Linked DNA regions of Homo sapiens. The protein of the gene in region 4 purifies or fractionates together with the protein of the main gene of each other region. This does not show direct contact. Each region holds a gene or a part of one and is shown on either strand. Other genes may lie near its edges. The genes, in order: HOXD13, SLC25A23, SFXN5 and SLC2A12.

The links.
Region 1: the proteins of SLC2A12 (region 4) and HOXD13 purify together in Homo sapiens (co-immunoprecipitation; 3 studies listed by BioGRID and IntAct, with this or other methods). This does not show direct contact.
Region 2: the proteins of SLC2A12 (region 4) and SLC25A23 purify together in Homo sapiens (affinity purification with mass spectrometry; 2 studies listed by BioGRID and IntAct, with this or other methods). This does not show direct contact.
Region 3: the proteins of SLC2A12 (region 4) and SFXN5 purify together in Homo sapiens (co-immunoprecipitation; 3 studies listed by BioGRID and IntAct, with this or other methods). This does not show direct contact.

The regions. Positions count from the first base shown.
Region 1 is NC_000002.12:176,088,077-176,095,720, reverse strand, and holds the start of HOXD13 (homeobox protein Hox-D13), read right to left. Parts: upstream 3,001-7,644; 5' UTR 2,831-3,000; coding exon 2,050-2,830; intron 1,242-2,049; coding exon 991-1,241; 3' UTR 1-990. UniProt on the Homo sapiens protein: Sequence-specific transcription factor that binds gene promoters and activates their transcription. Part of a developmental regulatory system that provides cells with specific positional identities on the anterior-posterior axis.
Region 2 is NC_000019.10:6,449,779-6,456,801, forward strand, and holds part of SLC25A23 (mitochondrial adenyl nucleotide antiporter SLC25A23), read right to left. Parts: intron 6,754-7,023; coding exon 6,642-6,753; intron 6,315-6,641; coding exon of another isoform or gene 6,174-6,314; intron 4,940-6,173; coding exon 4,781-4,939; intron 4,698-4,780; coding exon 4,545-4,697; intron 4,311-4,544; coding exon 4,203-4,310; intron 2,702-4,202; coding exon 2,534-2,701; intron 1-2,533. UniProt on the Homo sapiens protein: Electroneutral antiporter that mediates the transport of adenine nucleotides through the inner mitochondrial membrane. Originally identified as an ATP-magnesium/inorganic phosphate antiporter, it also acts as a broad specificity adenyl nucleotide antiporter.
Region 3 is NC_000002.12:72,956,702-72,963,724, reverse strand, and holds part of SFXN5 (sideroflexin-5), read left to right. Parts: intron 1-2,476; coding exon 2,477-2,594; intron 2,595-6,621; coding exon of another isoform or gene 6,622-6,745; intron 6,746-7,023. UniProt on the Homo sapiens protein: Mitochondrial amino-acid transporter. Transports citrate. Does not act as a serine transporter: not able to mediate transport of serine into mitochondria.
Region 4 is NC_000006.12:134,000,617-134,007,639, forward strand, and holds part of SLC2A12 (solute carrier family 2, facilitated glucose transporter member 12), read right to left. Parts: intron 6,319-7,023; coding exon 6,196-6,318; intron 1,514-6,195; coding exon 1,381-1,513; intron 1-1,380. UniProt on the Homo sapiens protein: Insulin-independent facilitative glucose transporter.

The DNA.
Region 1 (7,644 bases), on a different chromosome or scaffold from region 4:
TATTTGTTAGATGCTTTACAGCTCCATGCGAGGCCCCCTTGTTTAGACAGTCAAGTTCTTCATTGGGTTCTGTATGTAAGTTCCCACCCACGGCCACATTGATTCAGCCTCTTTTTGAGGATTGAGGAGATGACCACAATCCCAGACCCATAGATCCAAGGCCAAGAAAAGGAGGTGCATTTATGCCATCCGCGGGTCACTCTACTGATTGCAGCCATTTAAATGTCTGCATTGAGAGCTCAAGAAATGAAGGCATCCACGATCCATGAGGACACATGAGTTTCAAATTAAAGATTATGAAAACACAAACCTACAAAGTGTTAAAAACAAACAATTAAAACAGCAAGTGAAACACCCAAAGTTGGAAAGATTGTCTTCATTTCAATATTGATACAATCCCTATTTAATAAGGTGGCCATTTTTAAAGCCATCACAGTACCTTCAGCCTCCTGTTTTTAGACTTTCTCGGTGACCCCAGAGCACTGCCTGCCTTTCCACTTGCCTCAGGGCAACTGCTGAGAGCTAATGATTCAATTACCTAATTACAGGATATGAACGACTGAAAACCATTCTGTCCTAATGGATTATGAAGATAATCAGTGCTGGGAATGAACAAATAAAGTAATTTTTTAAAAAAACCCTTAAATCAGAATGGCACTTCTGAAGTTCATTGGGGGGCGGATTATTAAAAAATACTTCAAGTCCCTTTATACTGGCCTGGAGGGAGAAACAAAACATTAAAAACAGATATTTTAAAAACCCTAGGCAAGAACAAAACCAATAATAAACAAGTAAAAATCAGAACTACAAAGTCAGGTTGGGCAGCAGAAGGTTTTAGAGCCAGATAAGGGGAAGAGAGAAAAACAATTCACAAAATTTGCCACCATTGGCAGGGGGTGGGGGGAATTAAATACATATTCAAGTCTTTCCAAAGGCCTTTTGGAGACAACCGAATGGCTTCTAAGCTGTCTGTGGCCAACCTGGACCACATCAGGAGACAGTATCTTTGAGCTTGGAGACAATTTTCTTGTCCTTCACTCTTCGGTTCTGAAACCAAATGGTCACTTGTCTCTCAGATAGGTTCGTAGCAGCCGAGATACGCCGCCGCTTGTCCTTGTTAATGAATTTGTTAATGGCATACTCGTTCTCCAGTTCTTTAAGCTGCAGTTTGGTGTAAGGCACTCTCTTCTTCCTCCCTCTTCGGTAGACGCACATGTCCGGCTGATTTAGAGCCACATCCCCTGATACAAACAAAAGCACAAGAAAAATTAGGCTGGGATATTCGGAGCACCTAGCTGAGGATTGTGTGTGTGTGTGTGTGTGTGTGTGTGTGTGCGTTTGCAGGGGTGCAGGAAATTTTTAAAAAATGCCATGCTGTTTGGTCTTTATTATGTACATAGACATAACACTTACCTGTTATTAAAGAAGGATTATTTGCACTTAACAACAATGGTTAATTTGATTGATTATCATAGTTTCTCAAACCGGCATCTTAACAAGCTTGCAATTTTATGGTGTGGTTATTGGGCACGTTCATGAGGACAGTTTCTGCAAATGTCGGTTGTATAAAAACAAACTTACATACATAGACACATACCAACTCAGGTCTTTTGCTCAAATTTTGATTTCCCGCGTTCCTATGTTAGGAGTTCGTGAGCTTGATCTAACAAGCTTTAGTAGTCATCTTGGGGCAGTGATGTCTTTGAAAATGGGGGGACCCAACTCTGTCAGGTTTCTTAGGAAAAAGTTCTCTTTAGGAGAAAAGGGAGAGGCCCAAGGAAAGGGCACGCAGAGACTCTCAACTTTAGGAGAAAAACGTGTCTGCGCTGCACACAGGAAAGAAAGGGCAGTGACGGAGGCAGTTGAAATCAGAGGAGGAATTTACAGATTTCACACGAACTGGACAAATTTCCACTGGGTTAACCCTGGTCACGTGTGGAGCACAGGCACAACTCCCACTCCCAAGTAGGGGCGCATACTCTTAGTCCTTTCTTTTCTCCTTCTCTCTCCCCCTCCCTCGTGTCGGTCCCTTTTCTCCATCGCCCCTACCTGGAAAGGAAGATTTCCAAAAGTGGGACCCCTGTGGCTGGTCCTTGGTGCAGTACACCTGGCTGTTCCACCCGTTAGCCAGCGTCCAGGACTGGTACCCCTCCATGGAGATGTAGGCCTCGTGCCGAGGCTCCCCGGAGCCGAAAGTGGACACCATGTCGATATAGCCGGGCACGTGCTGGTAAGGGCTCGTATAGCCCTGGTAGAAGGATACCTCCTTGGCTCGCGCTGGCACCTCGTTGGCCGGTACGCTGCTGCTCGCCAGGCCTGACACGTCCATGTACTTCTCCACGGGAAAGCCTCCCAGCGAGGCGTGCGGCGATGACTTGAGCGCATTCTGCTGTAAGCCCACGCCGTGCGACATACGGCAGCTGTAGTAGCCGTTGCCGAAGTGGTAGCCGTAGCCCAGCGCTGGAGCGCTCGGGGGCGCTGCAGCGGCCGCTGCAGGCGTGGGTGCTGGGCACTCTTTGGCTGGGGGAGCCTCCGGGCGCGCCGCTACAACGGCAGAAGAGGACGACGACGAGGAAGAGCCCGTGCGCTCAGAGGTCCCGGGGTACGCAAAGCCGGAGGCTGCCGCCGCCGCCGCCGCAGCCGCCGCTGCCGCCGCCGCCGCCCGCCCCGAATGCGTCCCGGCGAACACAGGCGCGGAGAGAAAGCCGCGGCACTGGCCTGACGCCGCCGCCGCCGCCACCGATGAGGAGGAGGAAGAGGCCGGGGCGCCACCGGCGCCCCCGCCGTCTGCCCGCAGCCCGTCCATGTCCCAGCTCCCGGCGCGGCTCATGGCCCGGCCTGGCCCGGCCCCGGCCCTGGCCCTGGCCCCGCGCAGGACACCATGGCGCGGCGCGCCTCCTCCCTCCTCTCCTTTCTCTCTGGTTCGCTCGCTCCCGCCCTCTTCCTCTAGCCCTCTCTCCCTCTGTGAGCCTCCCGCCTCCGGCCCGCCTGCCCTCCAACAGGTTAGCTCATCGCGGGACGTTTATAAAAACGAAGTTCAGGTTGGGAGGGGGCCTGGGCCGGTCGGGGGGCCGCCTCCCGCCCCGAGGGCCCCCGCCGGGGGCGTGCCATTGGCTGCGCGCGGCCACGTGGGGGTAGGAACGCGGGGGAGCCTGGCTCCCGGCCCAGGCCTGGCTGGACCCACCCACTCCGGCCCCCACCCCTCTCCTGCCCCTTGCAGGGTCCACCTCCCATTCCCGCCCTCCCCCCCGACCCAGGCGTACGCGCTGCAGCCACCCCCACGAGTTGATTGCGCGACGGCCCATCCCAGGCCCTGTCTGCGACTGAGGCGGGCGCCAAGGCCTGCGCCTTGTCTCGGCAACCGCTGTTTTTGCCACCTCTCCTCGGCTCCCCGAGTTGCACAGCAAAATGAAGACGAAGGACAGAGATGATCAGAATGATGTGAAAACAGGCCCATTTTTTTATCCTGTTGCTGAATCCCTCAGTTAGTCGACTTCTAGACCCCAAATCCGAGTGAGCTAATTTGCCCTACCTTGTGCACTGGTACCCGGCAAAGGCATTTCACACAGGTAAGAGGCATTGGAGCAGACCCTTCCTATACACACACGCTGTCCGTTCGGAAAATGCCCATGAAGCGCCCTTGGGGCTGGCGGCAGAGACTTAAACAGATGAAAGACAGGCATCGGCGCAGTGAGCCTGACAATCTGTCCCAGAAAGAAAAGTCCATGGATGCCTACTCAACGCTCTTCGCCTCTACTCTTGGGCCAGCCGGGAGTGCTTCCGACCTGGGCCTCTCAGCTCCCGCGGGTCCTTCTTCGACCCGCAGAAAGACCCTGAGAACGGCGCCGGGGGAGAAAGCCACTCAGCCTCCCACCGTGAAACTTCTGTGTCTCTCCAGCAGCCGACCGGCCTCGCATTTTGCAGTCACCACCCACTCCCGCCCGTTTCTCACACCAAATTAATTGAAAACTTCACTTTCCCAGGGACCTTTGTTTCGCTTCCTTTTCCAAGCTGTCAACTGCAGAGAACTGAGAGGGGCAAATTAAGAGGGCGCTTGTTCCAAGCAAATTCGGATTTTGTGATAGGAGCAGCCCAGAGAAACGGTCTGACTTCAAGGGGTTAGGTGGGCTCAGGGCAGTGCTGGTGGGGCTAGGTCCAGCTCTGGAACCAAGCTGCCAGGGTGTTAGGGATTACAGCCCTGTCCCTCATCATCCCTTTCTGTTGCTCCTCAGCCTCAGAGCTCCAGCCCACCATCCCTCAATCTCAGCAACTAATGGGGCACCAATGAGAGTCCTGCTGTGACTTTGGGGCTCTGCCTTAGGAACAATATTAGATCCAATGAGCCCAGGGTTCTGGGGGTGGATATGGGATCCTTCAGAGCCCATTTGGTTCTGTGGCATGCACTCCCCAAGCCAGCCCATCTCCAAGAAAATCACTCCCCTAAGCCTGTGATTGGTGAAAGCTTGTCACCCAGCACCACTGTTCCCCGACCAAAGATGCCCTGAGTAAGATGAGGAAGAGAGCCAGGAAGGCCCTCCTTGGCCTGGCCTGGCATTTCAGGGTAGGCTGCTGGTGTTAGGAGTGTTGACATGCAAAACGCAGTAACCATAAAAGGCTCAAATAAAGGGGAAAGTTATGAGAGGGGTGTTGGAAAGGAAAAGCAAGAGAATTCGTTTCATCGTTTTGAAGTTCTAGACATGTTCATGATCAAATTTGAGATGGGAGGGGCCTGAATTTACAGGAAATCATAGGGAATAGAAGTTTGCTGATGAGAAAATTTTTTTCACTATTTGGGAAAAGAAGGCAAAAGTCAGCAATGAAAGTTCAACCAGCATTTTAAAAAGGCCAACTGTGGCGAGGCGACAGGATTGCTAACTTTTAAAGAGGGTTTGGCTGGGTCTTTATGAAACAATTTTGGTACCAAACCACCAACCATGGGCCACCATGAAATGCTTTTATTTTCCCTTTGTCTCATTTTTTCTTCCTCAGACAGAGAAAACATGAAGATAGTTTTAACTTTTTATGACTCCAAAAAACAAATTCGTTGAAATATTTCTAAGATATAAGTAGAACCAACAAACTTTCAGTCTCTTAAAATTAAATATCCCTGTGGTTTTGTGCCTTGGGCTTCTGCTTCATTTTCTCACTGATAAGTACATTTTAATGATCAATTATGTGTTTAACAATAAAGTAAAATGAAAATGGGAAGAATGTGTCAAGTTTTGTTGATTTCAAGCAGCCCATCACTTCTGGCTGAATTTTCCATTCAGCAAATTAAGTTGTGCAGGAGTGGGAGAAAAATCTGAATTACTACTCAGGTTGAAAGGGATTTCTCAATGGTGGCTCTGCTTCCAAAAGCCCTGTGGGACCCTCTCAGAGCAGGGCAAAAGTTTTCTCTGTCCATCCTAATGGTTGTTCAGAAGCCAGGAAGATTTTGAATTAGGAGCTTTGCCCCTTGATATCCTGCTGCTGAACCTGCTTCCAGCATAGCCTTTGGGGTCCCAGCCCTGTGGGAGGGCTTTGCCCTGAGGAAAGGGGGTCTGACTTTGTCCACTTGGGCTCCAAAGCCCAGCACCTCTGGACAAATTCTACTGGCTCCTAGGGCTGTGGTTGAGTACAAGGCAAAGTCAGGGCTGCTTTGTTTATGAACTAATGAGACACATAGTTTACAAGCCAGGGATGCCAGGTAGAGGAGGAATTTTGAGGCTGAATTTGCAGAAACATTTCATTCAGGTTTAAACTTACTGGGAATCAGTTTCTTTAGGTGGCCAGGAACACAGACCAAGCCTTGTGTTTGTGTGTGGGTGCATTATGCAGGGGTTTTTAACAACAGAAATAGGCTTTGTTAAGTGAGAATCCTTGGAGACTACACATGTCTCCAAACGTGTGTCTTCTTCAGTGAAACCAGTTTTGCCGCTGTTCCTGATTTTGGTGAAAAACTCAGGATGACCCTATGGTGCCCAAAGTCCCACTGTATTCTCCCATCACTTGCTCCTCTTCCTCCTTTTCTTCCAGAGGCATCCTTTTTAAGCATCAGTGCTGTTCTGGAAGTCATATTCTCTCCTTTCAACCTAGTAGATGATCTTTCAAATTTTGCTCTTGTCCTGGTTTGGGGGAATGGGCAGATACAGGCTGTGATTTAGATTTATTGAAGTTGCTCTGCTTGCCAAGACAGCAATGAGCTCAATTAACCACATAATCAGTGGCCATTAAGGCCAGGATCACAGGATTCTATCAGAGTGGGGTCCTGGGGACTCCTTTGAAAGCACTTGTCTTGATGGCCAAGATCAGGAAGTGCAGGACACCCTCCTAATTAACTTGTAAGAAGCCAAATATTTGGTGTAGAAATAGAGTCTTAATTCCAAAGTAAAATCTTAAGTCTAGCAGAAGTGGCTGGACAGTGTTCTTAACCAAATCTGTGTTCTGCCAACTTTGGAGCTAATTTTCCCTCTCCAGGCAACACCCAGTTTTACTCAGCCTGGAGATATCAAAAGAAACAACAACAACAACAACAACAACAAACCAAACCTATTGTGAAAAAAGGGGACCCTAGCAACAGCTAGACAGTGGAAGCCACATTTGAGTACTTTCTACCTTTGAGACATATTCCGTTTGGGTTTCACAACACGATTAGGCTTTATCAAATGAAAATCGTTTGCAGCAACAACAGTTCCAAACCCCCTCCAAATCAGAAACATTATTTGGTGGAACCAGGTTTGCCTCATGCAGGACAGCGGGCCCTTCTTTGGGATGGAGAGAACTTCTCCAGCCTTGGAAAAAATTAAACACAGTGAGGATTCTTTCCTTTGAAGAGAAGCACTAATCTCACTGTGAAAGGGACGCAGGAGGGTGGGGCAGGAGCCAGAGGCCCAGAGTAACTTGTTGCCTTTTTTTGGAAAATAAAAGCTGGGACCCTAATTTGCTGAAGTTTTATCCGACATTTCAAGGTGAGGGGTTGTCCTTGGAATACACTTCCCTAGCAAAACTACTGGGAAGTCCAGTAAATTCTCACTCTGTCGGTAGCTTGAGATAAAAGAAAATGTCTGTCTACCTACCTATCTCCATTCCGCAGAGTCCATTGTCTCTATGGGGAATCCACATTGTCCTTACCGGCAGGGCAAAGGGATGAAGGTGAGGAAAGTGCCCAAGCACGAAGGGGGGAGCCGAAAGGGAGGCGGAGGGGCAGTGTTCGGCTCCACTTCCCGGCCCGGCGGCGCGCAGTTCCCCACGCCTGGCGCTAGATGTCCCTGCAAGTTTTCCCGTGGCGTCTGAGGGCACAGGAACTCGAGGCAGGCGATGGGTCTGCGTAGACCGAGCCCAGGAAGAAAGTATCCCCCAACTCCCGCACCACGACCTTCCTCCGTGGGGCGCGGGATTGCGACGGGAGTGGGAGGAGGAAAGACAGAAGCAACCGGAGAGACCCGGAAGGGACAGAGAGCTAGAAGCTGGCCTGCCGAGGGCTCGAAATCTGAGTCTTCCCTTATGCAGCGAAACCTGCACCCGTGGAAACCGCACTTCGCCTGAAGACAGGGAGCCCGAGGCTCGAAGCCCAGGCTTTCGCGGTCCTACTGTCCCACTGCACCCTGCAGCCCCAGCTCTCGAGCAAGCATGCGTCCCAAGGCGGGACCGCAAGTTGTCGGCCCC
Region 2 (7,023 bases), on a different chromosome or scaffold from region 4:
CCACCTCGGCCTCCCAAAGTGCTGGGATTACAGGCACAAGCCACTGCTCCTGGCCGCATCTTATTTCTACTCACAACTCTTTTTTTTTTTTTTTTTTTTTTGAGATGGAGTTTCACTCTGTCACCTGTGCAGTGCAAGAACTCGGCTCACTGCAACCCCCATGCCCCGCCCTGGGTTCAAGCGATTCTCCTACCTCAGACTCCTGAGTAGCTGGGATTATAGGTGCCCACCACCACGCTCGGCTAATTTTTGTATTTTTAGCAGAGCTGGGGTTTCACCATGTTGGCCAGGCTGGTCTTGAACTCCTGACCTCAGGTGATCCACCGGCCTCGGCTTCCCAACGTGCTGGGATTATAGGTGTGAGCCACCGTGACCGGCCTCTACTCATACCTCTTAATGGCTTCCTATTTTACTTAGAAGACCCTGTACCCTGCCCTGATCAGTCCCCCCCAGACACCTAAGACTTCCACTCCTCCAAAAGGCCGTATTTGTTCCTGCTTCCAGACCTGGGTACTAGATTTGTGCATGCTCCCTTGTGATAATACGCCCAACCCATGGCTTCAATGTCACCTTCTTGGAGGCGTTCCTCAACCCCCCTCCCGCCCACTGTTACTGAAGATGACAAATCCTGTCTTGTGATCTTCTGAGAGCTTTTCTAGGAGCTGAAACTATCTTATTTGCTGGTTGATTGCCTGCCTTGTTTATGGGAATGGGCATTCCAGGATGGCAGGGACCATGCTGGTCTCATTCAACACCACAACTGCCACAATCCGCACAGTGTCTAGCACAGAGTAGATGGTCAGTAAATAGTCACTAAGCGAATGAGTGAACAACAAAATGGAGGAACAAATGAATGAGTGAGCAACGGTCTTGTCTCATTTGGTTGTCTACATGCCAGGTGCTGGGGAGGGCAGGTAAAGATGGCAGGAACAGAGCCTATTAGATCAGAATCAGCTACATAATTTGCAGGATCCAGTGCACAATGTAAAAGGGTGGGGGTCCCTTGTTCAAAAATTATTGGCCAGGTGTGGTGGCTCACACCTGTCATCCTAGCACTTTGGGAGGCTGAGGTGGGGGGATCCCCTAAGGTCAGGAGTTTGAGACCAGCCTGGGCAACATGGTGAAACCCTGTCTACTAAACATACAAAAATTAGCCAGGCGTGGTGGCAGGCACCTGTAATCTCAGCTACTCGGGAGGCTGAGGCAGGAGAATTCCTTGAACCTGGGAGGTGGAGGCTGCAGTGGGCCGAGATCGCGCCACTGCATTCCAGCCTGGGCGACAGAGTGAGACTCTGTCTCGGGAAAAAAAAAAAAAAATTAAGAATTTCAGGCCTGGCATGGTAGTTCACACCTGTAATCCAGCACTTTGGGAGGCCAAGGCGGGTGGATCACTTAAGGTCAGGAGTTTGAGACCAGCCTGGCCAACATGGTGAAACCCTGTCTCTACTAAAAATATAAAAATTAGCCGGGCATGGTGATGCATGCCTGTAATCCCAGCTACTCGGGAGACTGAGGCAGGAGAATTGCTTGAACCCAGGAGATGTAGGTTGCAGTGAGCCGAGATCGCGCCATTGCACTCCAGCCTGGGCGACAAGAGCGAGACTCCGTCTCAAAAAAATAAATAAATAAATAAAAATAATTTCGAGACAGCAGTAGCAGAGCGTTACACCAAGCACAGGGCCCTTCCGAGCATGGGGCTCTCTGCGACTTCACAGGTCACATGCCCATGAAGCAGGCCCTGTCTTGCATACAAAGATTTTGGGGGGAACGCTTGGGGACATCCAGGACCATGCTAATTGGGGGAGACCTGGTGATCCCACTAGAAGGTAAAAGCAACAGATGAGGTCCCTGGAAGAGAAACAGCCAAGAACTGTCTGCACCTGCCTGTGTTGATAAAGGTCTCAAGATGCTGGTGATTAGGTGTGGTTCTTATGGTAACAGCAGATGCTCAAATGGGCAGGCCCTGAAGATGACATTGGCTTAGAGACCGTGGCTGGGTCTGATACTTGCTTCGGGGAAGTTGGGTGTCTTTGAGACTCATCTTTGCCTGCCTTTTTTTTTTTTTTTTTTGAGAAGGAGTCTCGCTCTGTTGCCCAGGCTGCAGTGCAGTAGCTCTGTCACCAGGCTGGAGTGCAGTAGCGGGATGTTGGCTCACTGCAACCTCCGCCTCCCAGGCTCAAGCAATTCTCATGCCTCGGCCTTTTGGAGTAGCTGGTATTACAAGCACACATCACCATGCCTGGCTAATTTTTGTAATCTTTGCCTGATCTTATGTTTGTCAGCTAGAGTGGTCCCTGACTTTCAGGTGACCCCGGAAGGCTGAGCTGCTAATCAAAAGTAAGTGGAGAAGTGGGAGAGTCCAATACCTGGAAGGGTTCCCCAGGATTCCCAGGGCCAAGGTGCTCCTCACCTCATAACTGCCTTTCTCTAACTATAGCAGGTCAACTGAGCCAGCCCCAGGGGAAGGGGAAGGGGTGTCCTGTGGGTAAATCCCAGAGGGGAGCAGGGAAAGAGGAACGCGCTGCCCACAGACCTCGTAGACGGCCAGGTCGATGCCCGCATAGGGGATGATGCCCAGCACGTTGGGGAGGTAGCCGCGGTAGAAGGCACGGGGCCCCTCCCTCTCCAGGATACGCCTGGCGCAGTCCAGCAGCCCCTTATACTGGCCCGTCCGGCGCAAGGTCAGCCGCGTCTTCAGCACCTGGGGAGAACCTGGTTATCCCTGGAAAAGCTGTCCCACCAAATCGCTACATCCAGGAATGAAGACACCTAGAAATAGCTACTCCTGAAAACAGATGCCCTGAGAACAACCGAATTTTAAAAACCACCTACTCTAGAATCTTCTGCTATCCCCAAATCCCTATACCTAGAAATAGTTACACCTACCAAAGTGCACACATGTGGCACCACCAGTAACTGTCTCCTGATATCTTTCTTTTATTTTTTGGTCATTTCTGTAGAGATGGGGACTCGCTACTTTGCCCGTGCTGGTCTCGAACTCCTGGGCTCAAGTGATCCTCCCCTCTCCATCTCCCAAAGGACTGGGGTTACAGGCATGAGCCATCATGCCCAGACCTCCAGTATCTTGTTCCCTTCTGCTTTCATATCAGAAACTGTAACTTTCAGCAAGCACACAGCCACTAGAAAGAAAAATGACATTTCCCAGATGCCCTGGGTATGTGGCTATGTCACTATGTCCTAGCCAAAGAAATAGAAGGAAGAGAAAGAGGTACACATAAGGTTCAGAAAGCATCCTTAGAGGTGGGGAGGTGTTTCCTTTTTTATTGCTTCTTCCTTCTTGGCTGGAGTGTGGAATGTGATGAACGGAGCACAAGCAGCCACATTGGTCCATGAGGTTGTGTAACAACAAGATAGACAGAAAGAACCTGCATCGCTAACACTCTGAAGCTACCATCCCAGCCTGAAATGCTCATCTGTAGACTTTGTTGATGTGATTGAAGTTTTTTTTTTTTTTTTTTTGAGCTGGAGTCTTGCTCAGTTGCCCAGACTGAGTGCAGTGACATGATCTTGGCTCACTGCAACCACCGCCTCCCAGGTTCAAGCCATTCTCCTGCCTCAGCTTCCTAAGTGTCTGGGATTACAGGTGCCCACCACCATCCCCAGCTAATTTTTGTATTTTTAGTAGAGACGGTATTTCACCATGTTGGTCAGGCTGGTCTTGAACTCCTGACCTCAGGTGATCCACCTGCCTCGGCCTCCCAAAGTGCTGGGATTACAGGCGCTAGACATCGCACCCAGCTGACATGATTTAAGTTTTCTGTCACTTTCAGAATCCAAACAATACACTTCATAACCTGAAACCTGAAATAATTTATCTGAAAACATGTAGCTAGCACAGTCTATCCTTAGAAGAGGCATATTCATAAACAGTTGGTGACACCTAGACACGACGTCCCTGGGAACGTGCACCCTATCCTTAGAAGATGCATATTTATAAACAGCTGGCTCCTATGACTACCATCCAAACAAGGATAACCGACACTACCTTCCCCAGAAATTATATCTCAGTTGTAATACCCAGACAGGCTACACATGAAATTGCATTACTCTGATGAGCTATACTCCAAATCAGAGAGGGACAAAGGTAAAATCCCAATGGATATTGTGAAATGCAGAGTGAGATGGGTACAGCAGGCCCCCCACCCTGCCATGGGGCCTCCGCTGGGGTCCCTCCTTCTCACCTCCATAGGGTAAATGATGGTTTGGGCTGTGGCACCAGCCAGGGAGCCAGCCACGAAGCGCTCCTGCACATGCAGTGTCTCCTGCTGCCCCAGGATGGCCCTCTTGATCTGAGGCGGGGAGACACAGGGATGGGTAGGACCATGGGGGTTGAACCTTCCTTGCACTCCACTGTTCTCCTGGCTTCCAAAGAACTGGCTTGCTGCAGGCATTCATGCAGAGGAGCAGATGCCTGATCCTGGGGACCTGTGTTCACCACCCACCCCCAAGCCAATCCCGTAAATCTTTATGTACAGCCCAGTCTTCCCTATGGCAAGCACATTCCTCCCTGTACCTGCCCTCACCTGTTCATAGGCCATGAACTTGATAGCTGACTCGGGGGCAATCTTGAGTACATTAATACCATTGCCGCGCCACAGGGAGCGGATGCCTCCCTCAAGGACCATGCTTCGAAGCCCCCCAAGGATGTTCAGCCGGTTGGTCTTTGAGGCATGGACCTGAATGGGGAGACAACAGCTTGGAGGTCCCCTCCCAGGTGTCAGGCCTGGGGGAGGGGGCAGGTCTCTCCAGAGCCCCTCACCTGCATGAAGACCTTGAGGCGGTCCAGAGGGGCCGTGCCTGTCCGTGACACGGCACCTGCCACTGCGCCGGCCACCAGCTGTTTCCACCACATGCCCGTCAGCTTCTCTTGCTTTGAGAACTCGTCCGGCACTGTCAGGCACTCGCCAATGTCCAGGACCTAAAGATACAGGTGTTGGGGGTGTCATGCCATGGTGGGGACAGGGAGATGTGACTCAGTCCTAAATAGGGGAGTCTCCTCTATGAATCCTAGGATACCCTAGAGTCTGCCAATGACTCTTGCTTGGAGACCCCAGAAGAGTCCTGTTGGGTCCTACCAGGTGTCACCAAAGCATCTAACCTAGCAGCCTCCTTAGAAGATCCCAATATCCTACTAAATCCCACCAAAGGATCTGCCAAATCCCACTAAAGGATCCTATTCAAGTATCTGCCACATAAAGATCCCTCCAGGCTAGATGTGATGCCTCACATCTGTAGTCCCAGCACTTTGGGAGGCCCAAGTGGGAGAATCCCTTGGGGCCAGGAGTTCAAGACCAGCCTGGGCAACATAGCAAGATCCCCTCTCTACAAAAATTGGCCGGGCATGTGCCTGTAGTCCCAGCTACTCAGGAGGCCAAGATGGGAGGATTGCTTGAGCCCAGGAGTTTGAGGCTACATTGAGCTATGATCACACCACTGCATTTCAGCCTGGGAAACAGAGTAAGACCTTGTCTGTAACAGCAAAAAAAGATCCCTCAGGGCAAATGAGATTCTACTGAAGGATCCCACTCAAGGGTTTTCCATATAATGATTCCAAAAGATCCCTTCAGGGCCATACAAGATCTTACCAGGCACCTCCCCTATAAAGACCCCAGCAGATCCTTCTCAGGGACCCACGAAATCTCACAGGGATCTCCTCCACATGGAGTCCCCGTGCAGGAATCATTTCCAGTCTAGAATTTCTAACCAAGGTCCCCATGAATCGTCTGGGGTGGGAGTCTCTGGATCTCCAAAGAGGTTCTCACCAGATCCCACAGACGGATCCCCCTCCAGATGCCATCAGATCCTACCAGACACATTGCTCATAGACATTTCACCCAGGAACTAGGGATCTAGAGCAAACCCCCACTACCCTCTCTAGTGGCTCCCATTGGATCCTCTGAAGACCGTGTTTTTTTTTTTTTTTTTTTTTTTTTTTTGAGACGGAGTGTGGCTCTGTCACCCAGGCTAGAGTGCAGTGGCACGATCTCGGCTCACTGCAAGCTCCCGCCTCCTGGGTTCACGCCATTCTCCTGCCTTAGCCTTCCTAGTAGCTGGGACTACAGGTGCCTGCCACTACACCTGGCTCATTTTTTTAATATTTTTGTAGAGACGGGGTTTCACCATGTTAGCCAGGATGGTCGCGATCGCCTGACCTCGTGATCCGCCCACTTCGGCCTCCCAAAGTGCTGGGATTTTAGGTGTGAGCCACTGCGCCTGGCCAAGACCGTGGTTTTTGAACGATTCTGTTCAGCCGTAGAATCTTTTATCCAGGCAGAGAACCCAGCAGAAGAGAGCTGTGTGGGTGGAAGGTGGGAGGCCTTGTACCCCATCTGGTGAGCTCTTTCTTCCCTGTACCCGCAACCCCCACACGCTGTCCCCAGAGGCCCCGATGTAAGTCTCAAGGGCTGCGCTTCAATCAGACAGCAGAGATGTCCCAAATGGGACCCTTGAACCCTAAGTGGAGGAAGAGAGGAACAGACCCTCATCCGTCAGCTGCTGCCAGTGCCTTCTCCTTCTGGAAAGTCCTGGTCCAGCCCATCCAAGCCCTGGGGAGATCGGAGCAAGGCCCCCCTGGGGAAGAGGGCACAGCCTTCAGCTGGGGAAAGCCACCCCCACCTCACCGTGGAATGCTTCCAGAAATACAGCACGTCCTCCACATTTTCCAGCGAATGCAACAGGAAGTGGTCGCGCCATTCTTGCCAGTCAATGGTCATTGTGCCGTCTCGGTCCATGCTGGGGGGAAGAAAGGGGGTGGAGGAGGACAGGTTCAGTGCCTGGGGGTGGGCTAGGCTGGGGTGAAGTTCTGCTAGGTTTTGCAGTTTGGGAGGTTCAAGTCCTCATATCAACCCTATTAGAGATGTAGCAAATATTACCATCATTTTCTTTTTTCTTTTTTTTTGAGACGGAGTCTTGCTCTGTTGCCCAGGCTAGAGAGCAATGGTGCGATCTCAGCTCACTGCAACCTCTGCCTCCTGGGTTCAAGAGATTCTCCTGCCTCAGCCT
Region 3 (7,023 bases), on a different chromosome or scaffold from region 4:
CACCAGGCTGGGTCTGAGTTGGCTCCGGGCCCAGGCCACAGCCCTGAGTCCGCTCCCCCAGCTTCCTTTACTCCCTGGGCTCCAGGTCTTTCCTTTCTCCCAGGCATTCGCACATCTCTCCATCTACATATTTTAACTCCCCCAGCTGCCTTTCCCTTCCCTCCTTGCCATTTTCCTCCCCCCTCCCTTCCCCCTGTCCTACTGTGTTCGCTCTCAGGCCTGCTCTGGGCTGGGGCTTCCGAGGCTCCTGTTTCAGCCTCAGGCCTGACTCCTTCCTGAGCTGGGAGCCCAGGCCTCAGACTTCTTGGACCTCTTTCCCACTGAGTACTTCAGCCAGCCACCCTGAGAGAGGAGCCTTGGTCACAGCCCCACAGAAAGGGGGTCTGTCTAGTGTCCCCACCAGCAGGTCCCAAGGACTGAGCCCATGGCCTGCTCTTCACTTGCCGGGGGTAGCGTCTCTCTTTCTTTTTCTCACCCTTCACTGCTCTCAGGGCTGTGGGCAGGGACCCTCGGGGCTGTGCTTCCAGGGACTCCACACCCTCTAGTCACTGCCACTGGAACAGGAGGGCAGCCCCGTCCTTCCACAGCCTCCTCCAAGCAGGGCCTCCAGACTCTGTATGAAGCTTGGAGAATGAGCCTTGTATCCCCCGCTCCTCATCTTGCTTGAGAAGTTCATCTCAGGGCCCTCTCAGCCTTACTCCCAGCCCCTCCACGACCCCTAAGGAAGTCCAGGCGGGCATGGGCTAGCATGGAGTAGAGAGAGAGGGTGGGGGTGCTGGATGGGGATTGGAGGATCAGAGGGGTTTGGGCTTGATTTAGGCACCTTGGTCCTACTGCTCAATCCTGTGGAAACTCCCCTTTCCAATAGCTTAATTCAGGCCGGATTTAGCAGCTGGACAAACCTTGCGGTCTGGGCCTGTGGGAAGGACTGGAAGACAGGTGGGCTACCAGGATCCTACCTTCCCGCAGGTAACATGAGCAATAACAACAGCAATAATGACACATAATTTCTGAGCACTTACTGTGTGCCAGGCCAGGGCTCACCCTTTTACTTGCATAGGATTTGCAAGTAATGGGATCTTTATTAATACCTGAGCAGGAACATCCAGGGCCAGGGTTTATCAGAAGTGTGGTCTGGGATCACCATTTTAGACTCATGGAGGGTTAAAATGCACATTTCCAGGTCCAGTGCCCACTGAATCAGGCTTTCATGGTTGTAAGCAACCCTTGGGCATTTGCATTTTTAACCAGTTGCCCAGTCCAGCTGATGCACTTTAACTTTTGAAAACTACTCCCAATTTTGCTGTCTTCTCAGGGCCAGTTGCTGTTGGGATTCTTGTCTCAAGAGGTGACAGTATATGGGGTTTACTGCCCGCCACATTGGGGCTCTGCCCCTAGGAGGGCCCCTTACCTGCCTGTGGCATGGTCAGCCCTGCTGGGGGCGGCGGATAAGAGCCTGGATTATTTCCCCTTCACACCAGGAGCCTGTCACTTGGAGGCTAACAGTTACTGAGGTCAGATTTAGTGCCTGCCCAACACCCCCTGGCAAATAGTCTAGTCATCCCAGGCCTCCCCAGGTGGAATGCTGTGGTCCCCGCTGAAGGGCCTGCTGTATTGAGCAAAACAGGAAGCTCCGATGAACACAGTGCAGGCACATTGGCCAGCTGGTATGTCCCCACGCTGTCTGGGGAGCCTGGGCCCCAAAGGGAGGTTTATCATGCCCCCTCCCCTGCCCAGGAAACCAGCTCCGAAGCCAGCCATGGGAAGAGGGTGCCAGCTGTGTTGTGTTGGTGATGAAGCTGGCACAGGGGACCAGCTGGGGTGACAGCACCCTCGGGGAGCCAGGGGTCCAGGCAGCAGCTCTGACAGCCTCCTGCAGACTTGGCCTTGGACGAGTCATTGCACCCTCTGTTGCCCTTGGGTTGAAATTGACAAGGTGGCCAGTGGGGTGTCTTCTGTTCTCACACATAGAGGAGGATCACCCCCTCCTGGCTGGCGTGTGCCCATATGTATGTGCTTTGTCATCTCCCCTGAACTTGGCACCTACTCTGGTTTCTTTGCTGTTTAATTACGTGCTGCCCTCGAGAGCGATCTTACGTCCCTATGTGTCTCCCCAGGAACAGGGGCCGACAGCCTCTTTGAGTGTCTCTCCCACATAGGGCCTTCTTGGCACGGGGCTGGACGCGTGGCGGGTGGGTGCCCCGAAAGTACTCATTCGTGACCTGAGTAATTGAGGTTTCAGCCAGCAACGTCCTTCAAGACATTGGGATAGGGGTCTATACCCGCTGGGATAGGGGTACCTATCGGGAAAAGGTCCCAAAGACAGAACTCTGCTATATCTGTTTAGCTGCACACTGGCACTGCCCCGGAACCACGCTTCCTGGGCCCAGAGACAGAGTGGGACCCAGCATGGTGGCTGGCAGCCAGCCCACCCCACCTTCGGGTCTCATGGGGCTCCCTCCTCTCTCCCTCACAGGACGGCTCTCCTGCAGGCACGCCCCCGGCTGCTCCTCCCTGTGCAAAGCCTCGTGTGCCTGGCAGCCTTCGGCCTGGCCCTGCCGCTGGCCATCAGCCTCTTCCCGCAAATGTCAGAGGTCAGTGGGGAGGGGCTCAAGGGCAGGGCAGGGCAGGGGGTGCTGTTTGGTGATTTCTGAACAAATACTCATACCGTGCCGACTCCTTAGCGCCATGCTAGGCGCTGGGGCTGGAACCGTGAATGAGGCTGGCCCAGGCTCTGGCCCTCAGAGTGAGGGTCACGCAGTCAACAGGGTGATTAAACAGAGGCCAGCAGATGAGGAGCCAGGAGCGTTAGGGTGGGAGAAGCTCCACTGGGTGTGGAAGGAGACAGCAGACCAAACTGAGCCTAGAGGGAAGTGACATTTCACTGGGACTGGGAGCGTGGCTGGAGTTGGCCAGATGAAAAGGGGTGGCGGGGGGAGATGTGAGGTCCGCGGACACCTGGTGTGAAGGTTCTGAGAGGTGAGGCAGCACACGCCATGTCCAAGAGCTGACCAAAGTCTGCAGCGCAACCAGGGAGTGCAGCAAGGTGATGTGGCCTGGGAATGAGGGGCTGGGCTGGGTGGTGTTGGGAACTTGGAAGCCAGAACAGAGAGGGTGAATGTCCTCCTAAGGGCTGTGCAGGGCAGACCACAGATGCCTGATTCTGAGCGGCCCCTGTGCTGCCGCGTGGGGCTGGGTTAGAGCTCCAGAGAAGGAACCATCAGGAGCCTGTGGCGGGCATCCAGCAAGCGGTGATGGCGGCTTGGACCAGGCTGTTGGCAGTGGGCATGGAGAGAAGTGGGTCCCTAAAGAGGGAGTCAGGAGGCGGCTTCTTCGGGATTCGATGAAGAGCTGTATGTGGTGGGAGGGAACGGGAGCCAGAGGATGTGCACTGGCTTTCTGGTTTTGAACAACCAGGCAGATGTAGGTGCTTAATGAGATGGAGCCAGGCGGGGGCAGGTTCGAGGGAGGGCAGTGGGTCAGTTGGATGGACACGCGGGGTTGAGGAGCCTGTGGGATGTTGGCTCTGGGTCTGGAATGAGGAGAGACGCCTGGGCTGGAGGGATAGAAGTAGAGCCTACCAGCATGACAACAGTGCTGGAATCGAGGGTGGTGGGTGAGGCCTCCACCCTGGCGGGGTCCAAAGACAAGCAGCCAGGGTGGTGAGGGCAGATCCGGGCCATGTGTGATCAGGGTGGGTGGGGGGCATCCACAGGGTCAGACCCTCCTGAGAGGTCACACTCCATGAGATTACAGAGTATCCATTAGTGTCTCAGGCAACGTAGCCAAACCCTGTCCCCAGAGAAGGGATCCAGGTGACAGGTGAGGGGAAAAAATGAGAAAGACAGGTCCACAGCCGCAACAAGATGTGGGATCAGGAGGGGCTTTTATTTATGTATTTGTCCTTGTTTTAAATGGGAGAGACAGGGGCTTGCGTAAATGCAGTAGAGAAGGCACCAGGAGAGATGTCGAGGACGCTGACAGGACGATTTTGGGAAAGTCTATGAAGAGGAGGGGGGACCAGAGCACAGACGAGGGGATCAGCCTTGGCACGGGGAGACCCCTCCCCACTTCAGTAGGTGGAAGAGGAGTGGGGTGGGAGGAAAATGCTGCTGGGGGTAGGGTTCAGGGGTAGGAAAATTGAAGAAGTTGTTCCAATGGCTCCTGTGTTCTTGTGACTGAGCAGACAGGAGAGAGTAGGGTGGGGAAGGGGCAGGAAGTCAGAGGTCTGAGGACACAGAGAAGGGGTGAGACATCCAGGGGAGAATGAGAGGTGAGGAGGCTGAGCAGCACGTGGTCTGGGAGTGCAGCCGGGCCTGTTCACCAGGAGGTGCTATGGGCCAGTACAGGGAGGGCCACAGATCCTTTCTTCTGGGGTTTTGTCAGGTTGGGGGTGAGGGGGGCTGAGAGATGGGTGACAGCACGGAGGAGCAGAGGACCACGGGATCCACGCTGGGTTGGAGTGAAGGTGGGAGCTAAGCTGAGGGGAAGGCACAGACCCAAGAGGGCCCAGGAGGTGTCTGCATTGAGCTCACAAGAAGGCGAGGGCTGTGGCCAGAAAGCGGCGCTTCTGAATCTGTGATTTCACCATGGACCTGCTTCAGGCAGGGCCCCAAGAGAGGTGGAGGAGAGGTGAGGGCTCCTGGAGACAAGTCGGGGAAGTGAAAACAAGAGGCCGGGGCTGTTGGGGCTGCGAGGGCTGGAGACCCAGGCTCTTAGAGCAGGAGGAGGGGGTGACCCGCCTTAGGCCCTGGAAGGTGAGAAATGGGGTGGCTTCCTTCCAGAGCCCCAGAGTTTGAGGAGGAGACTCTGTGGGAGTGGGGCTCCTGTCTTGGGGGACACCATTCAACGCACACCAAGATTAAAGCTAGCAGGACCTCATCTCATGCCCACAGCGGCCAGCCTTGTCATGGGTGCTGGGATGCTCCTTCCCCCACCTCTCACCCTGGGAAACCTGCAGCCTGGGACTCCAAATGGAGCCATGGGCTCTGGGTTGCCTAGTAGCCCTGAAGAGGGAAGGCGGGTATTTCTCAGTGGTCTCTGACATCCCTGTCCCAGCCCAGCACTCCCTGAAGCCATTGCATCTGTCTGTGCAATCAGCCTGAGCCCAGGGTCCTAGGCCAGGGCCAGAGTCACCCATGTGTTTATAGGTACCTCTGTGCTTCTAGTAGCTGTCATAACTCCACCTGCCTGCACAGAGAAGGGACCCAGGGCAAAGAAAATACTGATGCAGAATCAGAGACCCTCCCAGTTAGAAGGATTTTCAAGGTCATCCAGTTTACCTTGCTACTGACTTTGCTGGGGAAATGGTGGCCCAGAAAAGCCATGGGACCAGCCCAAGGTTGCAGAAGTCAGGTGCCGATAGGAGAGGAAACACCAGAGGTCCACACTCCAAGTCCAGGCCCCTAGGAAGTGCTACACCTGATCATTTCCTGTGGCTGAGTTTCTCTCCCTAGTCAACCACCTTACCTACCTTGGGACAGCCAAGAGAAGAGGGAGCTGGGGGCTGCACTGTGGTGGGTGGTAGGAAACGGTCTAGAAGAGCTGTAGGTCTTTGGCAGGTGTTCCTCTGGGGCATATAATGGGGAGATGCCTACCATTCACCCACCCAGGCCTCCAGCTCTGGCTGCAAAGCAATGATGGAAAGTGAGCCACCCTGGTCTCACAGCTGCTGCAGGTCAAAGCCCAGGCTCCCCTCTCCCCACATGCCTACTTCAAATAGACATGGGAGTTAGTTCTTCTGCATATTTAACCAAAGTCCCTCTTATTGCAATCCAAGCCTCTTTCTCTAGATTGGGAAGAAGATAGTCATTGCATGTTAAGTCTTTGTTCCTCTGGGAAGGGAGGGTACAGGCATGATTTTCAGAGCTCCCTCCTCAGCTATGTGGATCCCAACAAGATGCAGGCTAGCCTGGGCATTATGGGGTGTTTTGAGCCCTGTTTGGGACCCATGGCACCAAAGCCTTCAGCCAACTTGCCGAGAGGGCCTTGTTTCCGCATTCACTCTCCCAATTAATTCTCCCTAACAAGGTGCTTCTTCTGCCATACAGGGATCATGTCTCACATCCCAGAAGCCAGTGGGATTTGCCACAATAAGTCTGGACTTGCTTGGGCTGACCCAGCCTTGCCAAAAGCCACCAAGGTTGTCAACAGAAGTAATCACTGGAACACCAATTAACTAATCAGGGGACTCGGAGGTAGAATTTAGGAACTAGTTCCTAGAGTGGCTGGCCTGCAGTGATTGTTGTGGAGTTTCCAACTCACTAACCCCAGAGATTGAGGCAAGGACTTCAATCCTTCCTTCAGTTCCTGGGGGAGAGTTTTATCTGCTCTTTTCAAATTAGTAGTTCTGCTTATTAAAATGGTACTGAGGGTCAAACTGCAAATAATAATAATGGCTACCATTTGCCAGATATCTATTGGACCAGGCAGCATGCTGGGAGCTCGGTGTACCTTACTGTATTAAGTCTTCCTAATGCCCCTTAAGTCTAAAACATTGAACATCAAGAGATGATTCCTAGACAGTCAGATGGCTCTGGGGAGAGAGTTTGGCTGGAGATACGGAACCTTCAGTGTATGGGGGGGAGTTGAAGCTGAGAAAGGGGATGTGGTCCACTATAGGAGGAAGAAAAACCATCAAGAAGGGGAAGAAGCAGCCAAGGGCACAGGGAGAACCCAGATGGAGTAACTTCATGGAAGCTGAGGACTTGGGCGATTCAAAGAGGAGGGGCTGTCTCCAGAGTGGGTGAGTGCAGAGGGGACTAGGAGTGGAGGAGACTTAGGTGGCATAGCTAGACATGGCAGTCTAGGAGGCAACATGGTATTCAGTTTCTTCTTTGTTCAGATGATTGAGCTCAAAGATGGGGAACTGTGGGAGAACAGCAAAGAAACTGTGAGATGGAGGTTGGGGGGCTTGGAGAGAGGGCAATGATGGGGAAGGAATGCCCAGAGCCCAAGGCGGGAAGGCATGGCCTCTATGGAGTCCCTGGGTCCAGTGAGTAGAGGGGGCTACCTGGCTGTGGT
Region 4 (7,023 bases):
AATCCTAGGAAGAGTAACAAGTTCTGCTTCATTCTTAGCCCCTATGTCTCACCTCTTCCCCCAGGACATGGTTTTGGCAATTAGAGCTACTAAAAAAGGAAAGGGAATTTTCTGCCACTCACTTCTAAATTAAATGTTTCACTTCTAAGTTAAATTGTTTAAACAATCTCTCCTTGTGAAATTTTTTAAACCAGTTTTCTAAAAGCCTATTCATATAAGAAACTTATCTTTCTTAAAATTACCTTAAATGTGCAATATTTAGAACAACGGTAGATGGTTAAGCCTGAGAGTTTTTCTGCTAATCTTAGCCTTAGCAAGTGTTTAGGGCACAGAGAAGGAGCTCTAAGTCTGATAGAGATGGAAAGGCTGAGACCCAAGTTCCTAGCCCAGTGTGAACATGGTATATCTACACTTCCGGGACCCACCCCAAACCCCAAACAAAGAAAACCTGTTGGGGGGAGCTAGAGAGGCGGAAGAAGTTCTGAGATGGTGATTGAGTAGAGCTTTAAAATGTTCACCCGTTGGTTGGGGACTGGGTGGGGGAAGCATTGGGGGGTGGTGGGGGATAAAAGACTACAAATTGAGTTCAATGTATACTGCTCCGGTGATGGGTGCACCAAAATCTCACGATCGCCACTAAAGAACTTACTCTGTAACCAAATATCACCTGTTCCCCAAAAACCTATGGAAATAAACTGTTTTTTAAATGAGATAGTTTTAATCAGTAGCACAGAAGATTCACATCCTCTGTACAACAAAATTAGTTTCAGGAAAAAATCAGGTAAAACAACAATAGTAACAGTTTCTTTTTCCGAAAAGAAATGCAGACAGTGAAAATATTAAACTTTGTTCTAGTAAAAATTATTACATTACAAAAAAGGAAAATATGGTTTAATGCTTTTTAATTACAATGATGTATTTTTGTTTTTGTTTCGTATAAAAGGAAAAAACTTGTAACCTTGTACGTACATATTGGTTGGTCATAGTAATGAATAATAGCATTACAGTTTGATGATAATTATAAAAGGCTAACGTTAAAAAACATTCCAATTGTAAAGATTTTATTCAAATTCAGTACAATATTTCATTGATAAGTGAAAATTTGCACTTGCCAATCAAATACATTCACTTTGTAGTTTGAAAAAAAAAAAAAAAGCTTCATTCATTGGGAAGAAATGGTTATTCTTCCTTAGCTGAATCACCCAAATTAAAGACAAAGCAGGGAAATTGGAATTATGCACTGAGACATAGTCTTACGCTAAAGGGAATGTCCTAATCTAATAATATCTAATAATTTCAGATATTATTCCTTTGCTGTATATAAAAGCTGCACTTTTGACCAAAGAGTATTGTTCAGAAACCAATGCATGTAATACTTACACTTTTGCTAGCTCCATTGATATTTGTTCCAAAGAGCATCCCTTTGTCTCAGGTATAAACATAACAACAAAAAGCAGGGATGCTAGACTCATGATTGTATATATAAAGCACACCCATGGCAGGCCAATAAGATCTATAAAGGACAAAAGAAATTGATTAGAAATGTGTTTTGTGTAGCTTTGATCCCATTTGTGAACAGCCACTTAGGGCATACATAGCACCATATGTATTTTCAAACATGCCAGCAGTATCCAGGAAAATAGAAATCACAAATTTAAAATGTAGCCAGCTCTGAAGGTGTTACTTTTACAGACTACCTTAGTTTTCTCTGTTGAAGAAAATAGCAGTCTTGTAACTATCACAATTTACACCCAATGTCATCTTCTTGGTGGGCATGTCTTTCTGTTTCAAAATGGCAATGTGTCTTTATTAATATAAAAAAGCACATGCAAAAAAGGAACCTCAAATAACATGGAAACATATGATGTAGAAGGTAAAATCTCTCTTCTCCCTCTCCACAGTTCCCCTCTTGGGAATCGCCATGGTAGCAGTTTAGTTTCTGTTCGGTGGACAATTTTTTCCCCCTCTTGCTATCATTCCCAATGGTGGACATTTTTAATGACATTTGTACAGATGGATTTTTCTTGGAATGAGCTCACCCTTCTTTGCTCTGATGTGAATAAATCATTTCATGCTGGCAATATTTCATCATTTTTAATAGCTTGCAGTGTATTTGTAATGTTTCTTCCTGGGTTCAGAGAAAAAAGTGATCATGGATCCAGTAAAAGCCATCAACTTGCCAAGATGCATCACAAGAAGCAGGATCCTCAAGATTCTGATGACTCTCATCTGCAAACCTAGTTTTTCCTCTGACCGCTTCCAGCCAAAGATACAGTCCCTTTGTAGTCATGGACCAAGTCAAGGCACATTCAGTGGTCAGCAGTGGCCCCCACAGTGCACTTGAGGCTGCCATTTGCATTGTGGCGGCCCCTGACTCAGCAGCAGAATGTCTAGTGTGGCAAGGAGTAGTCAACTACGAACAACAAGATTTTACAAATAGCCTTTAACAGCTGCAGCCACAAACCACAGTTGGTCAGGCAGGAAAACTGACTGAGCACTTGTGTACTGAGGCAGTGTTTGTAAATGCAGCATGAAAGAATCGAAGCATAGTAACTACTTGTCGGTGAGTTGTGCTGAGGTTGGGAGAAGCAGGAAGGAGGAACCGCACTGCAGTTCTTTTGGCAATTTTAATTAAACTCCTGTCTCTCTCTGCTTTTCTAGCTGGCACAGGGTATGGCCCAACTGATTGCTTAATAAAGTCCTTGTAGAATTGGGTGTCCTTCCTTCTCTGGAGCTTAAAACCAGAATATAGAAATTGTCAAAACCCTAAAGGCTGTCTCATCAAATTGTCCCCAGTTTTGTTTGAGCACTTTGAGTAACAGGGAGCTCACCATTTCACGAAGCCTCTTACTGCCCTGTGAAATAGTTGCGTCTGCTAAAAAGTTATTCCTTGCTTAGATCCTAAATCTGCCTTTCAGAGGCTGTGCTTTGTCCTGTGGAAGGACACACAGTGAATCAGCTCTCCCCACCCCTTCTCCGTGACAGCCATTCAAATATTTGAATGCACCTCAGCCCTCCTCTGAGAATCCCCTTGTCCAAGTCAAACATCCTGAGCTCTTCAACCATTCTTCCCACAGCATAGGTTACTGCCCTCGCCATTCAGGTTGCCCTCCTTCAGCGAACACACTGCAATTTTTAAATGGCCCTCTCGAGATGTTTTACTCAGAGCTGAATGCAATGCTACAATTGTGTCATGATCACTGCAGAGTACATTTGTCTATCTGGAACAGTCTGCTTTTATTGATACAGCTGAAATTGCATAAAAAATGTTGGTGTTTAAGGGCTTACTGCCAAGTAGAACCTCACGTCTTTTAGATCCCTGTGTCCTACACTTGGAAAATTTATTTTTGAAAATAAGTAGGAAATGTCAAGCATTCCAATTAAATGTCATCTAAAGGTTTTAGAGCATTCTAGGCTTTTTGTTTTTAAGTGGATCTGTTTTCCTACATTTGTTCTAAAAGCCCATACGGAACTTCTAAAGCTTCACTAGCTCCTCCAGTGTATTAGCTATAGCCCTCCCAGAGATGTGTGTCATCTTTTCCATCCCTCATCAATTCCATTTTTTCTTTTATATTTCTCTTTCTCCACATCAAATAGCAGATGGAGGGTGTGTGTGTGTTGAGTACGTGTGTGCACATGTGAAGGTTGAGGGCATGTGTTTATGTGTGTGATCTGAGTAGGACCAGTTTCTTTGTTTCCTTTAATCTTGAGCTACTTCTCAAAAGGTAGGATAGGAACATTTGAAAATTTTATATAAAAACCCAAACCACGCTTAAATAGTAACCCCAAAGGTTAATTTCCAAAAGTGGATATACTAAATATATATGTATGTATGTGTGTGTATATGTGTATATATGTGTTTATATATATGCATGCTTTTCAGCAAACATCCATTTTTGAAAATTGTATCTATAAAGACAATATATATGAAATGAAGAAATTAGGTTATTTGTTTCATAGAACTTCCCACAGTCTGGATTTTCTTGATTGTAGTCATGCTGCATGTTCCTCATCTATATATGAAATAAAGAGAAACCGACTCATTGGTCAGTTTTCGTGGATACTGGGGAACTGCCACATTATTTTGAAAACTAGAAAATAAAGAGAAAGTTTCAAGCACGTATTTTACCTTTCTTATATGATCCACACTTCAGGATAGCCAAATAGCTAATGAGAAGAAATTTCTCTTTAGAGAGGTATTTCAGATAAAAATGGAGAAGGAATGACATAATGAGTAGGTCTGGGAAATGATCATCAAAGGAGGCCAACAATGACAAACAGCGAGACAACCAGACCTCATGTGCCTCCTGTTGGCAGTTCACACGGCAGCAGCTGCCACAGAGTTCACCAAAAAATGACATGTAAATCTCCTCAAGCCTCTATCGTTTTTAAAAAAATAAATTTAGGCTTTATTTATTTATTTTAGCTCTATCATTCTTTGTAATCCCCAAAGGGTTTCCCTTCTTACTTTCTTCATGTTTACAAGTTGGAGCTAGGAAAACAAGGCGAATGCTTCTGTTTCTGATTTGATCCCTAATATTGGGTTATTTTATTATAATATATAAATCTAATTTGTGGTTCCTTTAGATAGGGCTGCTGAATGGAACACACAAACAGCCATTTTTTGTTTTGCTTGTAACATTTTTTTATGCCTTGCCTTATTTCCGACATAGGGATCCTCAAATTTTCTATACAATGCAGTTGAATTTCAGGCTTCAGTGGAAAGTAACAATGAGCCTGACCTTATTACAGAATCTCCCTGCCAGGCACAGTGGCTTACGCCTGTAATCCCAGCACTTCGGGAGGCTGAGGCAGGTGGATCACGAGGTCAGGAGTTCGAGACCAGCCTGAGTCAACAAAGTGAAACCCCATCTCTACTAAAAATACAAAAAAATTAGCCAGGCTTGGTGGTGCGCACCTGTAGTCCCAGCTACTTGGGAGGCTGAGGCAAGAGAATCACTTGAACCTGGGAGATGGAGGTTGTGGTGAGCCGAGATCACACCACTGCACTCCAGCCTGGGCAAGAGAGTGAGACTCTGTCTTAAAAAAAAAAAAAAAAAAAAAAAAAAAAAAAAAAGAATCTCCCTTCTGCTGCTCTCTATCCTTAAATTTGATGAGATCCCTTTTGAAAATAAAAGTTTGTTATTATTACAAGCAATTCTGCCTGACACCTAAACATGACTTTTGTTATTGTGGATTGGTTTCTCTTTCTCCTCAAGCCTCTATCTAAATCTAATAGCAATTTACAAGAAACATAAAAGACAGAGAGGAGGGCTAGGCGTGGTGGCTCGTGCCTGTAATCCCAGCACTTTGGGAAGCTGAGGTGGGTGGATCACTTGCGGTCAGGAGTTTAAGACCAGTCTGGCCAACATGGTGAAATCCCTGTCTCTACTAAAAATACAAAAATTAGCTGGGTGTGATGCTGTGTGCCTGTAATCCCAGCTGCTCCAGAGGCTGAGGCAAGAGAATCATTTCAACCCAGGGGCCGGAGGTTACAGTGAGCCGAGATCATGCCTCATGCCACTGCACTCCAGCCTGGGCAACAGAGAGAGACTATCGGAAAAAAAAAAAAAAAACAAAAAAAAAAACAGAGAAACAGAGAGGGGCACGTGACATGACTATAATCAACAAAATTCAGACTGGAAAATTCTATGAAATAAATCATTTGTTTTTTAATAGATTTTTAATTTCTTTAAAAATATAAGGTATAGTGGGGGTGAGGAGATGGAGGAGATGGAGACAAAACCTACAAATTATGACATATTTCAGTGACTTGTAAGTTATGTATTTGGGTCATGATTCAAATCATGTATAAAAAGCAATTATAAGACAATTAAAACATGAACACAGACTAGGTGTTTGATACTATGGGATGATTATATTTTTAAGTGTGATAATGACATTGTAGTTATATGTTTTTGAATGTCAAAGGTCTATGCTGAAATTTTTCAGAAAAAACAACATTGCATATGGGATGTGACTCAAAATAATTGGGTAGGGGAAGAGCAGGTGGGGTTATAAATAGATTTACATTCAAAACTGTAAATTGGGTCATGGGTACTTCAGGGTCATGGCCGTTCTCCTTCTAAGTGTGTTTGAAAATTTCCACGAAAAAATGGTCTTTAGGTGGGTGTGATTCCCTAACATTTGTCCTACGAGGACCAAAGACATTAGAGGAAAACAAAGACTTCTTACCAGTTACAGTCAAAAATGTCAGCGAGATGAGGAGATTGATGCCCCAGTTCATGCTAGAAGTTAAAGCCATGGCTCGTCCTCTGATCCCACCAGGAAAGATCTCGCTGAGCACCAGCCAGGGCACTAGAAGAAAGGCAAGAGTGGGTGGCGGACAGCACATTTAGCAAAAACCCATTGAATCTGAGTGCCAGCACCCTGATCTCTCCCTGCCCTCATCCTGCCGGGATTTGTGGTTGGGAAGCACCATTTCCTACCTCAGCAGAACAGGACAGTAAAGGGACGTGCTGCCTCCTCACCTCCAGCCAAGGAAGAAAGGATTCACAGAAACATTAGGAGAGCTGGGCCATGGTCCCCATGCATAGGGTGAGGGGCATGAGGTGCTGGTATCTGTCACAGGCCCAAGAAATGCAAACCGCAGGGGCAGAGGTGGGGCCACCTGCCTGGCAGCAACAAGAGAGCCAGCTCTGGACATCTGCCAAGCACAGAAGCCTCAGTGCCAGAGCCCAGGTGTACCTGCTGTAGGACTGGGCTGTTTCCTCAGCTCTCTCCCCCTGACCTTGGAGGAGTCAGAAATCACAGCTAATGAGTGGGTAGGAAATGGAGCCAGGTGGGCATGAGGAAGCCGGCTACTCTCCCTTCTCTGACTTGGGCGTCCTGGCCTGAAGCAAGCTGGATGGAGAGAAGTTCTAAATTAAATAGAGCTCCAAGATTTGATTATTGTACCAGACTAAACATTTGAATTTCTAGAAGGAGAGTCTTATTGGCACCAAAACTCATCAGAGGACTTTTTATTATCTGAGAGTGACAGGGAACATTATGGGGCTTGCC